Regions from separate parts of the Homo sapiens genome. Here region 1 is linked to region 2. A link means that fine-mapping ties the variant in region 2 to the expression of a gene that starts in the linked region. Tissue or cell type: cerebellum. Region 2 holds a variant in brackets; the other region holds the start of a gene. All regions are shown on one strand. Distances are between the middles of the regions.

What was found. PIP is the estimated chance that this variant, and not a neighbour inherited with it, causes the effect.
Region 1: it holds the start of CACNA1B, and the variant in region 2 is fine-mapped to the expression of CACNA1B in cerebellum (GTEx, PIP above 0.99). The same link has a PIP of 0.9 or more in anterior cingulate cortex and cerebral cortex.

The regions. Positions count from the first base shown.
Region 1 is chr9:137,873,657-137,881,726 of GRCh38, reverse strand. CACNA1B (calcium voltage-gated channel subunit alpha1 B) reads right to left here and starts at 3,945. Exons shown (of 47, transcript NM_000718.4): 1 at 3,510-3,945; 2 at 2,568-2,673. The coding sequence starts at 3,793. It overlaps CACNA1B-AS2 (CACNA1B antisense RNA 2), which reads left to right. Exons shown (of 4, transcript NR_121583.1): 3 at 6,047-6,264. RefSeq lists enhancers at 67-568, 2,837-3,752, 6,987-8,070.
Region 2 is chr9:138,114,905-138,122,974 of GRCh38, reverse strand. CACNA1B (calcium voltage-gated channel subunit alpha1 B) reads right to left here. Exons shown (of 47, transcript NM_000718.4): 42 at 7,296-7,423; 43 at 4,894-5,029; 44 at 4,207-4,323; 45 at 2,603-2,810; 46 at 2,094-2,344; 47 at 1-1,506. The coding sequence ends at 976. Among named protein-coding and RNA genes, the nearest start is that of FAM157B, 98 kb to the left of the region's middle. The variant C/G (reference allele first, on the strand shown) is at 3,287.

The DNA of each region.
Region 1 (8,070 bases), 240 kb after region 2:
GGGAGACCCCAAAGACTCCTCGTGAGCACACGCGTGGGGCTGGCAGGGAAAGGCCCTGTGCAAGGCAAGCCCGGGAAGCTGGGCTGAGGGAGCTGCATGTGCAGGGTTGGCATGGGGGTGTCGGACACCTGCACTCCAGGGCTGCTGCCTTAGGAAGCAGGTGAAGGGGTGGGGAGAGGAGACCAGCTTCAAGGGCCTCCCCTGAGGGTTCGTCTTCAGGACTGTGGAAGTCACAGGAAGAAGCAGCTGCTGGGCTGCCACAGAGCTGCCAGGTGAGGTGAGTGCCACCAGTTCCACAGCCTGTGCCTTCCTCCCCAGGAAGCCAGGCTCTCGAGGGCTCTCCGCATCTGACTCCCACCTTACTCAGCCTGGGCTCCTCCTGTCCTGTGGTGGAGCTGGCCCAAGGCTTGGCTGGCAGTACCTGGTAGAAGCTACCAGCACCCAAGGGTCCATCATGACCCGTGCTGACTCGCCCATGCTCTTCCTGGCCTCGAGCCTTCTGGTCTGATTTGTTTAGGAGGGACCCCTTTTCCCAAGGGGTGGGGTTGCTGACCATCTGCCCCAGGGGAACAGTGGGGCCGCAGCAGACAGAGATCTTCACAGGAAACTTCCTGGTGAAAAAGAGAACAGGCCCGACGCCTAGGAAGGACCAGCCAGCACCCTCAGCTGGGAAGGAGCCCCCAGCCCGAGCCCTCTCCTCACAGCTCTGCCCTGCCCAGCCCATGGCTGAAGGCTGGCTTAGGTGGGAGGGATGGGTGTGCAGGCAGCTTGGTGTTGCACTGCAAGCTGGGGCCTGGCTCGAGGTAGCTCCAGAGTCGACGGGGAGGTGGGAAACAGCCCCGAGAGGCAGGGAACCAGGGAGGCCTCGCCCAGGGCCAGGCTGGGAGACAACTGAGGGGCTGCCCCTGCACCACCCAGCCTCGGCCTGCTCTGTGGGCAGCAGCACAGCCTCCCCTCCATCCCAGGGGACATCAATGGCTGGGCCTGCACATGGGACTGGGACTGGTCAAGAGCTCCCCAGACCTCTAGGCTGGCTCAGGGCGGGCATGTTCTGCAGTTTTCCCAACAGGTTAGCTCGCCACTCCTAGAAGTGTCCTCCCCAACCTATGACCACAAAGTAAACCCTCCCACACCTGCGAGGCAGGAACTTGCAAGGCTGGACACCCACTGCCTGGCAGGGCAAGACAGCTTGATCCTCCCTGCCCCCGCCCCGGCCTGGCTCCTGGGCCTGCGTCCCTCTGACCCTGGCCCTGCCCTCCTTCCTGTGACTTGGCATTCAAGGCTCTCTGCCTGTTTCCTCTCAAGCTCACCCTCTTCTCCAGCCTCCAGAAAGCAATGGGCCCCACCAGGGTCCTGCCCAAGTCCCCCACAGGGACCATGACTCACGCCTGCCTCATGGTGTGGCTGGGCTGTCCATGCTCCTCCTCCTCACCCGGCCGTAACCCAGACCACTGGGCATTCCAGACTGTGCTCCATTAAGACCTCCTCACCTCGGCCACCCATAACTCACCTCCTGGTGCCTCACCTCCAGGACAGGCTCCCTGTCTCCCCTTCTGCACTCCTGGGCCTGCGGTGGCCCAGGTTCAAAGGGAGTTCAGTTTCAGGGCTAAAGTCTGAATAGCTCTTGTCTCAGGATGCTAGTGGGGGCGGAAGCCAGGCTTAAGGGAAGAGGGAGCAGCTCCTGACACCCCAGAGAGGCCGTCTCCTGGACGCCTCTGGCCCCGCACCCCCTGGGCCCCCACTTGCTCTGCCTTCTGCTCACCTGGAGGCTCCAGTCTTTAGGCACACTCGGAACCCAGACATGGGGCCAGGCATCAGGGAAGAGTGGGGGCTGGGGGACATGCTCTGACCTCAGAAACTGCTCACCTCCAAAATGCTGCCCTTCCTCTGACCCAGCCCCTCCAGAGACCCCACAGGGCTGGCCTTCCACCTTGCCTCCTGTTGAGCCACGGAGACCTTGCCCTGGCACCCTGACTCACACAGACTCTATGCTCCAATGGGGGCTACCACGGGGGCCTCTTGGCTGGAATCTGGGGACAGGTAAAAATGATTCAGAATGTTTGAGAAGGAATGCTTCCCACAGGATGGTGAGGCCCACTGGAGAAGAGGTTCCAAGCAGGCCCGCACAAGACAACTTGGAGGATGAGGCTCAGGGTTCCCACATCCAGGCCAAAGCCCATCTCAGCCCAGCAGGGCACACATGGCATTCAGAGCTGACCTTCCCGAAGACATGAATGCCCCTTCCCCACCCCAAGTTTAGAACATGGTTTTCTGGATCAAAGTCTAGCGCCGAAAGCCAGGACAGCCATTGAGGTGCAGGAGTAGCTCGTGGCACAGGGCAGACTGGCCCAGGGCTAACGTGGCCACGCCCAGGGCTAAGCCGGTGACCCCAGCTGCCCTGGCCCTCGAGGAAGGTGTTATCTGCCAGGCCTACCTTTTCCTTCAGACGCGAGGGGCACTGCCCAGACGACCCTGCCCGAGGAAGCTGTTCTCAGGCACAGACCATAAAGGAAAGTGGAGTCGCGGCCTCCCCACCACCCTGCCCTCAGGCCCAGCCGGGCACTCACCAGCCGCTCGGACATGGGCGTTTTGTCCCCATCAGGGAGGTGCTGCTCCAGGGCCAGCACGATGCAGTTGGCGATGATGGTGGCCAGGATCATATACTCGAATGGAGTGCGTGAGTTAAGGACTGGCCGGCAGACGCCGCACGGAGGGAAACACGAGGCCGACGCCAGCAGAGCCCAGTGCAGCAGCCACCGCTAGGCCGTCTCCGGAGGGGCTGAGACAACTGGGTCCGGAGCCCCTCTCCTGGCGGAAGCGGCCTGGTCTCCCTCACTCCCTGCCCCCATCCCTAGGGGCGGCCGCGAGGCGGGGCCTCCGCAGTCTGGGCCGCCAGCCCCTCGGCACACCCGGGCGGCCGTCAGCACCGCGGACAGCGCCTCCGGCCCGGCTCCGCCCGACTCCAGGGCCCCGAGGGGAGGGGGCCGAGCGCCCCCAGGCGAGGCTGGAGGGAGACCCCGCGCAGGCGCACGCTGCTCCCTCCAGACACGCAGCCACATGTACCTACACAGGCACGTGAACATGCATGTAGCCCGCATCGCGAGCGCACGCACGCGCAGCGCCAGGCTCCAGCTCAGCCCGCACACGCAGGCACCTGCAGCCAGGCGCGCGCACGGCCGCGTCCCCACAGCGCTCGCACCTGCACGGACGCGGCTTCGCCCTCGGTGCCCTCCAGGCTAGCCGCGCACTGTGCACCGACCAGGATCCCCAGGACCCGGCGTGCGGAGGGACGAGTCCGGAGCAGAGGGGCTCCGCCCCGCGCCCGCCGCACTCACGGAAATGCTCCCGCACCCGCCGCTCCGAGGGGCCCTGGGGCGCTCCGTACCCCCCTCGCCCGTCTCCCGACGCCTCCCCAGGTCGCGCCCTCCCGGCCACCGGGAAGATGGCCCCGGCCCCGGCCCCCACCCCGGTCCCCGCCCGGCCCCGCCCGGCCCCGCCCGGCAGGATATGGCCACTCGGTGATGCGCTTCGCGTATTTGCGGACGACGTTGTCCTCGCTGAAGACGAAGAGCGAGCGGTTGACGGTGAAGCAGTTCTGCTTGACCGGGATGGGGTTGTACAGCGCCATGGTCCGCGCGCGCTGCGCGATCGATTGCTTGTAGAGGACCCGCTGGCCGGGCTGCAGCCCCCCGGGACCCGGGCCCCCCGCCCCGCCGGCCCCGCCGCCCCGGGCCCGCTCTCCGCCGCCGGGGCCCCCATAGCGGCCGCCCAGCTCGTCCCCGAAGCGGACCATGGCTCCCGGGCCCCGCGTGCATCCCCGGCCCAGCGGCCCCGGCAGGGAGGGCGCGGGGCGCGCCAGGCGCTCAGAGCGGAGCAGCCACGGAGCCGCCGGGACCGCAGCGGACCTCGCCCGGCCCCACCGCCGCAGCCGCCGCCGCCTCACCCGACTCCGCGGCCCCGCGCCACGCCCTATAAGGGGCCGGTCACGTGGCGGGGCCCGGCCAATCCGCGCCGGCCCCGCCCACCCTGCCGCGCCGGCCCCGCCCCGCGGCCGCCCCCGCCCCGCCCCGGCCCCTCCGGCTGCGCCTCCCTCGCCCCGCGCCTCCCACCCCGGGGCTGGGCCGGGCCCAGGAGCGGACGAGCCTGTGGGTCCTCGACGGCCGCTCAGCGCCAGCCCGGGCCGTCCCCGGAGCCCACTCTGCCGGCCGCACCGCCCCTGGGTGCCCTCGGCTCCTCAAACTCGGCCCAGACGGACCCCTCGCTCCGCCCGGAGGCGCCACCAGCCCTGGGGCTGCAGCCCAGAGCTGGGCGCCAGGCCTGGGCCGGCCCGCCCCGTCCCCGCCGGGTCCCCGGCCTTCCCAACCCTCCGGGTGCGCTCGGCTCGCGGCCTTGGTGCCACGCGGACGCTTCTGTCGGGGGCCCCCAGCCCGGGTGCGGGACCTGCTGTTTCCACGCACGGGGCTGGCTCCGGGATCTCAGCTCAGAGAAGCCTCTGACCGCCTTGCAGGCCACGCCCCGTTAGGGAACCTGTCACGGTCACTGCCATTCCCCAGGCCTCCTTGAGCGCCCACCGCGGGCCGGGCCTGTCCTGGGCTCCCAGCTCTGCCCTCACGGAGCTGACCGTTTTGTACAAAGCACAGCAACCATTTACACAGCGCTCACTTCGTGCAGGCCCGTGGGTCCTCACAACCTCCAAAAAGGCGGCCCCGGGGTCGGGGAGACCTTCGGGAACAAGGGACCCTCTCGGACCTGAAGCTCGCTCGCAAGGCGCTGAGTGCAGAGTGAGGCCGGGTGCGGGCTGCGCCTTCTGAGAGGGAGGCAGTCCGCACAGTTCCGAGCAGAGGCGCGTAGGCCTCTGAAGGGTCCCTCGGGCTGCCGTGTGGAGTGTGGACTGCAGGAGGCTGGGGTGCTGAATCACTTAGGATGCATTCAGAGGCGAACAACCCGCTTCCCAGCTAGCAGCAGCTTGCACGATGCCATTGTGATCTCACTGAATACGAAGCCACCATCTCTCCTCCCTCCAAAATCCCCACATACACTTTCTGCCTTCCTGCCTGTTGCCTCATGCCCCAGGGTGGCTGTCATAGCACAGGGCATCACACCGCTACACCAGCATCTCAAACGGGAAGGAAGTGGCAGGTGTACAAAGGATGACCACTTTGTGAATCAGGTTACGATTTTCTTTTCTAACAAAGGAAAAGCTTCTCAGAGGCTCCCCCTGCAAGTGTCTCTTTAACCCCGTTAGGCCATGGGCCATGTGGCCGGCCCTGACTTTAACAGGGTGGGAAAGTGAACATGTGTCAAAGTGGACCAGGATGGCCAGCCCCCACTAGGCGAGCACATAGTTGCCCCAAACAAAATCAGGGTTCGCTTAGCTGGGAAGCAGGTGCTAAGGCTGTCGGGGAGGCTGCCAACTGGCCTGTCACAGAGAAAAATCAGAGCCCAGGGAGGGGTTTTGACAGCAGCACAGAGAGAGATGATGTGGTTTGAACATGGGGGCCATGAGCAGTGCCTCTTTCTCTTAGAGAGAGTGCGTCCAGTGTAAATGTGAAGGAGAGATAGAAACACAGGCTCTTCATTTTTGGTCTGAGTGACTGAGTCGAGGGGGATGCCCTTTGCCGAGATGGGGAAGACAGAGGGAAGAGCTTGTTAGTCACAGGGTGGAAATTAAGAATTGCCTACTGGGGACAGAAGTGGAGATGCTATGCAGGGGTGGAGTTTCTCGAGGGATGCCAAGACGAGAGGCCACTGCTGCAGCCCTGCGCCTGGAGGCTGGGCTCGCCACATCTGCTCTGCCCTTCCCTCCGTGCTGCGTGACGCTGGAGCTGGCCTTTGAAAGCCACATCAGCCTGTTCCTTGACCTGTGGTTTCTGGTTATGCTAGCCCAACAGGAGCACCAAAGGCCCTTGAGGGAAGGAAAGAGCAAGGCCAAGGTGTCTACTATTCCCCTGACTTCCTCCTGCCAGGTCACCGAGGGTTGGCTGTGCACCTCAATTGAAGCTCCGGCCCTGTCAGGCACCCACCACTCTCCTTTCTCTCTCTCCAGTTCCAGTTCCTGCGTCCTCCCCTTGTTCCTGCCAGCGGGGGATGGCATCACGCAGGCATGGTGAATCCTGGCCCTTGGGACTTCCCTGCGCCTTGCACAGATCGCACAGATTGTGGTAGATGGTCCCTTGCAAGTGTCATCCTGCCTGATGCATCACCACCGAGGAAGCGACCGAAGTCAGAGACAGAGGATGCTGCCACTCCCCAAGAATGAAGCCGGTGAGGAGGAGCAGCCAGGGCTGTGGGGGGTCGGGGGAGTGCCCTGTCCCGGAGCTGAGGGAGGAGTGCGTGTAGTCCATAGAGATGAGGACCGACATTCAGCCATCAGAGTGGAAAGACAGAGGTGCCCATCACCCGGACAGCAGTTTCCACAGAGGAGCAGCCCGAGTGGGGCGGATTGAAGAGAATGAGTTGTGAGGAAGTCCCTACAGCGGGTGTAGACAGCTCGTTCAGTGAGGAAGTCCCTACAGCAGGTATAGACAGCTCATTCAGTGAGGAAGTGCCTACAGCAGGTGTAGACAGCTCGTTCAGTGAGGAAGTCCCTACAGCAGGTATAGACAGCTCGGTCAGTGAGGAAGTGTCTATAGCGGGTGTAGACAGCTCGGTCAGTGAGGCAGTGCCTACTGTGGGTGTAGACAGCTTGTTCAGTTAGGAAGTCCCTATAGCGGGTGTAGACAGCTCGGTCAGTGAGGCAGTGCCTACTGCGGGTGTAGACAGCTTGTTCAGTTAGGAAGTCCCTACAGCAGGTGTAGACAGCTTGGTCGGTGAGGAAGTCCCTACAGCAGGTGTAGACAGCTCGGTCGGTGAGGAAGTCCCTACAGCAGGTGTAGACAGCTCGTTCAGTGAGGAAGTGCCTACAGCAGGTGTAGACAGCTCGTCCAGTGAGGAAGTGCCTACAGCAGGTGTAGACAGCTCGTCCAGTGAGGAAGTGCCTACAGCAGGTGTAGACAGCTCGGTCGGTGAGGAAGTGCCTACAGCAGGTGTAGACAGCTCGGTCGGTGAGGAAGTCCCTACAGCAGGTGTAGACAGCTCGGTCGGTGAGGAAGTCCCTACAGCAGGTGTAGACAGCTCGGTCGGTGAGGAAGTCCCTACAGCAGGTGTAGACAGCTCGGTCGGTGAGGAAGTCCCTACAGCAGGTGTAGACAGCTCGGTCGGTGAGGAAGTCCCTACAGCAGGTGTAGACAGCTCGGTCGGTGAGGAAGTCCCTACAGCAGGTGTAGACAGCTCGGTCGGTGAGGAAGTCCCTACAGCAGGTGTAGACAGCTCGGTCGGTGAGGAAGTCCCTACAGGAGGTGTAGACAGCTCGGTTGGTGAGGAAATCCCTACAGCAGGTGTAGACAGCTCGTTCGGTGAGGAAGTCCCTACAGCAGGTGTAGACAGCTTGTCCAGTGAGACAGGGAACAACACAGATGCAGCATTAAGGAGTTTTTTGTTTGTTTGTTTTTTAAGGTAGGGGATATTATTGGACTTCGTATGTGATGGCAATGACTCAACAGAAAGAAAAATTGCTGATGCAAGAAAAAGAGTGTCTTGCCTCGTCCAGGCAAGAGGGCATCAGACTTGGGACAGCTCACTCGAGGCAGGGAAAGAAAAGCGGGTCGCACGATTGCAGGCACAGGTGGGCTGGAGGATTCATTTGGGGGAGGATGAGGGTTTTATTGTGATTATTCTACTTTCTCAGTGAAACAAGAAACAAAACAAGCAACTGAGAGTGAGAAGGGGGCATTTGCAGGTTGGCGAGGGAGGAGAGGGTTTGAAATGCTCATCCAGGGCTATAGGGAAGAGAATCCACAAGAGAAATGTGTAGAGTTGACAAGTCTGGAGCTGGGGGTGACTAAGTCCAGGACAGGCTGCGTGGTGGGCACTGCTGCAGTGTCTAAGCCAACGACCAGCGAGCTTGTCACCCCTCGAGGGTCCCATCTTCCTCCGGACCCTCCAGCACACTTGCTCACAGCCCCTCCCCCATCCCTCTCCAACCTCAGAGTCCTTCTGCTGCCCCCTGTCCCCCACCCCCATCCCTCACTC
Region 2 (8,070 bases):
TTGCCACCATGACATCCAGTGCTCTCCACTGGCAAGGGCTTGCTACCTGGCTGCCATCGCGAGTACTTTTCACAGCATCCTGCGGTGATGGATCCCGAGGCCTCGCCTCACACCACAGTGCCCAGGAGCCTGGGTGTGAGGGCCTGGCGGTCAGGCACTTGGTCAAGAGCAGCAGAGCCAGGGGCCGTCTACGTCCACCTGGACCGGACAGGGCTGCACAGGGAGTCTCCTCGCATAAGCCACAAAGACACGTGGCAAAAAGCTGACATCTTTCTTTCACAGGTTTGATTTTTTAAAGTTATGTGAACATTTCCTTCCCCATTTTTCTGGTTTTCCATTTTTTCTACATCACGTATATAGAAGTGACAAGAATGAGAGGTGTTGCAATTAAAAATCACAACCACAGCAAGAACACTTCCCAGCTCGGTTCCTGTGGGGCTGACGGTGTCCAGGGAGGACAGAGCTTGCCTGAGTGAGCATTCGCTGACACTGGCGGGCTGCACAAGCCACGACTGTGTCCCCCTCCCCATCCCCTCCGTCCCGAGGTCTCGGCGCACTTTCAGGTGGGCCCTGCTTCTCTGTGCCGCACGGCCACGTGAAGGGTGCTCCCCACAGGACGCAGAGCTCCTCACAACGGCTCCAAGCACCCATGCTGGATGCTGAGTCCCAGGACACGGGATTTGGACTCCTGGGTCCTTCTCAGCCACACACAGCAGCCTGCGGTTTAGGGTCTGGTGTGTGGTACGAGACCCAGGAAGGCAGGACAGGAAGGGGACAGAGAGAGCCGCATCCTCTAACAGGGCTTTATTCGTCGTCTAGAGTAAAAGAGGGGAGGAGGGGGAGGGAGGGGCCACAGGAGCCTCACCAAGGTGGGCAAGGCCTCCCCCGAGGGCCGGCTGCCCCGTGTGGATGATAAAACTCATCCACTGGAACACACGCCTGCTGCATGCAGGCGTCTGAGCGGTCACGGTGCAGCTAGCACCAGTGGTCTTGGTCAGGGTGGTGGTAGCTGTGCCGTGCTCGGCCACCCGAGCTGAGTCCCAGGGTGCAGTGGTAACCGTTGGGCACGCGGCGGAGAGGGTGAGACTGGGAGGTCAGGGAGGACACGTAGGAAGTCCTGGAGGAGCGGCCCGAGTTGGTGGCCACAGCCTCCTCGAAAGTGAGAGTGTCCTCAGGCAGGGCGTGGACAGAGGCCTCACTGTCCAGACGCTGCCCCAGGTAAGGGTCAGAGCCAATTCGAGAGCCAGGGGCCAGGGGCTGGCTGAGGGGGTCTCTCTGCAGCAGGGCGTTGTGTTCGGAAAGCCCACGGCTGAGCCGGCCTGGGGAGAAGGCAGGGAGGCTGGTCTGAGCCCCGGCGAAGTGGATGGGTGAGGAGTTGGCCGTCTTGTAGGTGATGCTGGGGCGGGGAGTCAGGGGCGTCTGGGGGAGCTGCCTCCGCCCACCGCGGCCGGGGGTGCTAGCACCAGATGTTGACAGCAAGGGGCTCCCATTCACGGAACCACTGCCCTACATGAAAATGGACCAGAACAAATCAGAGGTAAAAAAAAAAAAAAAAAAGCCGAACCAACAGACAGAGCACATCACACACAGGTGCCTGGGGGGATGGGAGGAGAGAGGGAGGCAATGGGGGACAACGGGCTGCGGTGACCAGGGAGGCAACAGGCACCTGTGTGCGGGGGAGGGCGATGGTCAGGGTCAGGCCCAGGAATGGGGTTGGGGAGAGCAGGTGATGGGAAGGGACAGGCTGGGGCCAGGGAAAAGGACAGAACAAAAGCCCAACGACCACAGTCAGGGAAGGAGAGTTAAGTGACCGAGAGAGAGGTAAGTATTTGGGGGCCCAGGTCCGAAAGTGGATAGGACGCAGAACCACTGTCCCAGGGTGACCCAGGCAGGAGCTTGATGAGAACACAGCTGGGGTAGGCTGCAGACGTGGGCTCCGGGACAGGGCACAGAGGGGAGCGCCCGGCCCTTGGGTTGCTGGGAATGACAAAGGGCAGCAGCGAGGCCCTGGGGAGAGGCAGGAGCCTGTGGGACAGGGGTGCTGGGCCGAGGAGAGGCAGCTGGGCCCTGACCTCTCCACCTATTCCTCTTACCTGTGGGTGGGGTCCCGGCTCCTGGCCAGCTGTTGGCGACGTTGGGTGGCTGCTGAGGGAGGGCTTGGGCTTCGGGGGCTCACGGCCCCCAAAGCGGTCGCAGGAGTAGAAGCGCTGCTTCTCCGAGGAGGAGGATGAGGGCTGCCTCCGCTCCTGGGACCGGCCCCGCTCCTGCCGGCGCTCTCGTTCCCGCCGGCAGCCTGTAGGCCCCTCTCCCGGGGGCAGCCCCGGCCCCACAGCACTGCTTGGTGCTGGCCAGGGAAGAGAAGAAGTTAGCACGGCCAGGCCCAAGGCAGGGACCCCTGACCCCCGGGCCCAGCAGGACAGAATTCAGGTGGTGCCAGGGGAGGCTAGGGTGAGGGTTAGGGCCTGGGCCTCAGTCCCACCCTGCTCTGGCTGGTTATGGGGTCACGAGGCCCACAAAGGAAGAGGGTCCCCCATGGGCCGCTTGGACCCCCTGACTCGGGCCATAGCTCCCCGAAGGACTCCCCGGGCCCCTCCGCACGCACCGCCATCCATATCGGCAGACAGGCTGGGCCCCTTCTCCAGGGACCTCTGCTTCCTGTCCCTGCGGCGGTGGCAGCGGTGGTGGTGGTGGTGCGACGACGCCTGGCTAGGGGGTGGGCGGTCCGGGGTGGTGCTGCAAAGATGAGTCCCACGGGGCCGCTGGGCCAGCGTGGAGATGGAGCGCTTCATGGGGCTGGCATCTGTGACGGGCTGTGGGCAAAGGACTGAGAGTGGGCCTAGGGGAGGCACCAGGGTCAGCGGGAATGCAGGCATGGAAGTGGGTGGTGGAGCAGGCCAGACAGCAGGCCCACACGCCCCCCATCCTGGTCTCACAGTCAGAAGGACCCAGGCCTGAAATGGTAGCCCAGGAGGGCAGGCTGGGGGCAGACAGTGCCTGAGTCCCCGCCCCATCCCATGTGTCGTGCCAGGAAGAGAGAGGTGGCTGGCTTGGTTGGAAGAACCCTGAGTGGAAACCAGAGACGCCTCTGCTGGCTGCAATGGGATCACTCTGCCTGGTGCGTCTGGGGTGGACTGGCTCCCGAGCTGCTTCCACGGCCAGAATCAGGACCCGTGAAGACACCTGGGACGGGTAGGCCCTCCCAGGTAAACTCACCCACAGCCGCCAATGCATCACGTGTGTGAAGGAGGAGGCCCCAGCACAGGCTGCAGGGAGGCTCAGCCTGCAC[C/G]CACCCACCAGGCAGCACCCAGGAGGGTACCACTGGGCGGGGAAAGAGACAAGAGAGGAAGGACAGGTGGGAAGAGGAGAAAACCCTAAGAGGGAGGAGAGGCAGTGAGGAGAGGAAAAGGGTTTGCTGGCCACAGCAGTGGGATGGGAGACGAGCCACGGACGAGGTTCAGATCCACAGCTCCACAGCCCAGGTCGGCCGAGGGACAGGGCTGGCACGGGGGCTCCGGTCACTTTTGGCCAACTGAAGCAGGCTCATGTTGCAGGTGAGGCCCTGCAGCTCCTCCGAGGCCTCGGAGGCCGGGGCACAGTGTTCCCAGATTGGCCTCGGAGGGGCGATCCTCCCAGTGTCCTTGTGGAAGGAGCCTCCCCCGGGAAACACATGGGGCCAGAGCTTCCTCTTCCTGAATCCAGTGTGCATGTCCCAGAAAGAGGCGAGCCCAGCAAGGAGCTGGGTAGAAAAGTAGTCCAGGGACTGCCCATGAGCAGGGAGGGTCCTCCGCAGAACCACGGGCGGGAGAGGGGACTGAGGTGTCGGTGAAATTTTCTGGATGAGAGTGGGGGTTGTCTCAGGGAGTAGAGCCCCGGAAAGGAGGAACAGAACGTGGCTGAGCCAGAGTGGGGGCCCCTATGCCCCATGGCCCCTAATAGGAGGCTGAGAACAGGCACAGCTGTCCTCTACCGGACCTGACCCACCCTCTGGAGAAGCCTCAGGGGCTGAAGGCGTCCAGGCTGCACCTCTGTCGGCGCCCAGACAGGACTGCCCGGGGTGCCTGCTCCTGCCTCAGCAAAGAGCTCCACACATGGACCCCAGCCTCTCTACCCCAGCTCTCCTCACCTGCAGGAGGCCCAGAGCCACAGCCCCACTTCCCCACCCCCCACTTGCCCAGCCCAGGGCCTGGACCCTCCCAGACCACCTACCTGAGTCTCGGCCGCAAGGCGGGGCATGGAGGCCGCTCGACCCTGGCTCTCCAGCCCAGGCTGGGGCTCCCCATCAGGGCCCCTCCGGGTTATGCTCTGCATCTGAACGTCCACAGCCTGTGGATACAGCACTCACCTAGTCCCACCACACAAGGCACCGCGGACTCATCTGATCCCACCCCGGACTCACTCCATGAGGCACTGGGGTCTCACCCAAATCCATCTCAGTCTCACCTAACTCCCACTGCTGTTCACACGTCCCCCACCCCAGTCTCACACACCCCCCATCCCTGTTCACATATCCCCCACCCCAGTCTCACACGTCCCCCACCCTGGTCTCACACATCCCCCACCCAAGTCTCACATGTCCCCCACCCTAGTCTCACATGTTCCCCACCCCAGTCTCACACGTCCCCCACCCCAGTCTCAAAATCCCCCATCCCAGTCTCACACACCCCCCATCCCTGTTCACACATCCCCCACCCCAGTCTCACACGTCCCCCACCCTGGTCTCACACATCCCCCACCCCAGTCTCACACGTCCCCCACCCAAGTCTCACATGTTCCCCACCCCAGTCTCAAAATCCCCCATCCCTGTTCACACGTCCCCCACCCCAGTCTCAAACATCCCCCATCCCTGTTCACACATCCCCCAACCCAGTCTCACTAGCCCCCGGGAGTGCTCACCAGTGCTCCTGACCGCCCCACAGGGATCTCTGTGGAGTGGCCACGCTCCAGGGGTGGCCTGGCCTCATGGGGTGCATCCTGGGTCCTTTGAGTGCCCCAGGAGACAGACTCTTTGATGCCACTCTCTTGGTTTTGTCTGTGGCAGAGAAGACAAACAGATTCCTGTAGGGTCAGAGACTGCAGGTGCCTTACCAATAGCCTGGTGCTTCAACCTGCCAGGCGTCTCCAACACATGCAGCAGAGGTCAGGGGGTTTGGCCACCCTGTTCTGGACTGAATTGAGCCCTCCTTTGGGCACAAGAGCCCCAACGTGGCCTGTGCACGCTGGACCCAGGCAAAGCCTCATCAAAGGACATGGATCCAAAACAGGGTCAGAGCAAGAAGGGATTCAGAGTGGCAGAGAGGATGCAGAGCACCAGCTTACAGCCCACAGTGCTCAAGTCTGAGGGGGGCCTGGGTCCGTCACCCGCTCCTCTGGACAAGAGGCTGATCTGTGAAGTGGGAGCAGGGGTTGTCCTTGCCACACAGGACTATCCTGGGAAGGAGTGGGGCCGCATGTGTACAGCCTGCATTAGGACAGTAGCTGAAGAAGTCCTGCCTATGCCAGCAGACAGCAAGAGAAGCTGTCATGGAGAGGACAGGCTGGGACAGATGAGGGCAAAGCTGTCATGGAGGGGACGGGCTGGGACGGGGGGTAGGGGGCCTCGCCCGGGACTCTTTGGGCTTCCTCCTCTAGGGGCTTCCTCCCTCAGGGGTCCCTTGCTGGTGGCTCCTCCTTACTTCTCTGACCCCCCCCCCAAGCCACAATGAGCCCTTCCATCCCTCGGCTCTCTGCTGGGGTGCAGCCTTCTGGCGGAGGCCACCCCACACATGCTCCCCATACGCCTGCCCCAACAGCCCCACCCGGAGATACTTCCGCACTGGTATTTCTCATCACTTATCTCCCAACTGGCGTGGAATGTGTTCGGGTGAGTGCTCATTCTCACATTCAGTGAAACACTGAAGACTACGTTCTTAGTCATGCAGGTTGAGTGGCACTGATCACTCTGAGCTCAGACTGGAGCCTGATAGTCTAAATGGACCACACCCTGACCACAGCAGTGGACGCAGAGATGGCAGAAGGACACACTGGTGGTTGCTGGGGCTTCTGAGAAGCCCCATCCTTTGTCTTCTGAGAGTTGCAAGCAGCTCTCCTTCCATGCTGTCTGGGGCACTGCAGCCCCTGCTGGCACCAGGCACAGAGCGGCCGCAGTGGCAGGCTGGTGCTGAGAGGAGGGGTGGTTAGGAGAACCGGAGCTGGCTCCTAATGCACCGCTAACCCTGAAATAACACCACGTCCAAGGCCAGAGGTGTGCTCAACCCGCTCACTAAATGGCTCAATAAATACCCTCACCAGACCCAGTCTGAGTGGGTGCTCTCTGACTTGGAGTTGTAATTGATTTAGGTAGAAACTACCATCACAGAAATAACAGAAGCTCAATTTCCTGCTGAAAGCCTGGCTTAGATAAACCCCAGACACCTCACTATCTCCTCCCACCTGCACATACAGTCAGAATCAGGACTTTAAATGCAAGGAAGGTTTTCAACAGCATGCTGAAAGCAGTGTGGGAATGGGGGGCTGCCAGCGGCTCGGGAGTCAGCCCCCAGGATCTGGGTCCTGAGATTTGGGAGCACACTTTTCTGGGCCACAGTGGGAAAAAGTGATGGTTCTTGTAAGTCACCTGCTTCTGGGTGATTTGTTACCCGGAAATATTGTGGCAAGAGTTAAGTGATACAAAAGAACCTTACCAATTTCTTTACAAAATATAACAGCTTCAGAAATCAGTACCAAAGTGGAGATCTGAGAGGAAAAGTGCCTTACGGGGTTAGAAAGATCAGAGCAGTAGAAGGCCATTGACAGAAAGGGGTGGGAGATGGAGGTGGAATCTCAGCGTCTGCTGGCACGGAGGGCCGATGAGGAGCAGGGGCAGGGGCCTCTTGTCTGAAAGGGAAGCAGGTGCGTGTGTTGGGAATGGGACGTGGTGGTCTAAGTGCTGTTAGGAAGGCGGGTTCGATGAAGCACCTGTCTAATGTCACAGGAAACGATTTTAAAGTCTGCCACAGAAACCCAGCAAAGGAAGAGCCCTTGACTGCTCTCAGGCAGCAAGTACAACAAGCATCTGTAGCAAAGCCAGCCCCTGAGAACTGAGATGTGGCCTAGGGGCTCTCTGTCCTTGGAGGGTTGCTAAGGGCCCAAGTGCAGGGTCGGATGGCAGACACGCCCCTCAGGTGCCTCCAAGCTGGTGAACCCAGAGGCCAGTGGAAGTGAGGGCCAGGGAGGTTGAGGAAATGGGATGTCTGCTTCCCCCTTTACTGTCTTTGGACCTCCTCCTGTCCAGCTATGTCCTGCATCTGGATACTCACATGGCCCCGCCATTGCTGAGGGAGGTGGAACTCTTCTGTCGAAGGAAAACCCGGGCTCCTCGGAGCACAGCCGGCTGTGTCTGCTCCAGGGTGGCCTTCAGAGGGTGGAACAGGGACACAGGACCCATCTGCAAAGGAGGCAAAGGGAAGGGAAAGAGCTCCAATGGGCCTGCAATGTGGCCTCTGTGACCTGCTCTGACCATGTGGCATGGGGCAAAAGCCAGGTCATGTTCAAGCCCAGCCTAAGGGCTCTTTCCCCTTAGCAAGGGGCCGCTTACTTTCCCTGATATGTCCCTAAATATGAGCATGTGACCAAAACAGTGAAGCAAGCCAGGGGACCCTTACAGCATCTCCTCAAAACCTTGCCTGTCAGTGACTTCAGGAAAGCCATGTCACCTCTCAAAACCTCAGTTTCCCTGTCTACACAACTAGGGGATTGGACCAGATTACAGGTGGCAACAATATTCCATCTAATCATCACCTTGAATTGGCTGGTAGGAGTTAGGGTTAGGGTTGGGCTGAGCAAAATTCCGAGATTTCAGGGCTGGGGAAGACTGCTGCATGGATTAGTGATGTCTACCCCAGGTGTGAGAATGGAAGGTGTGGCCTGAGCACCACATATTCTCCATCTGAGGACTAGGTCAATGTCCCCAGAAGCCCTGGACATCTAGACAATTTTCCAGCAGACAGACTACATATGGTCACCGAAGACACGGCTGTGTGGGAAGGACGACATCGGGAAGATGGGTCCCCAAATCATCTCAGTCAAAGGCAA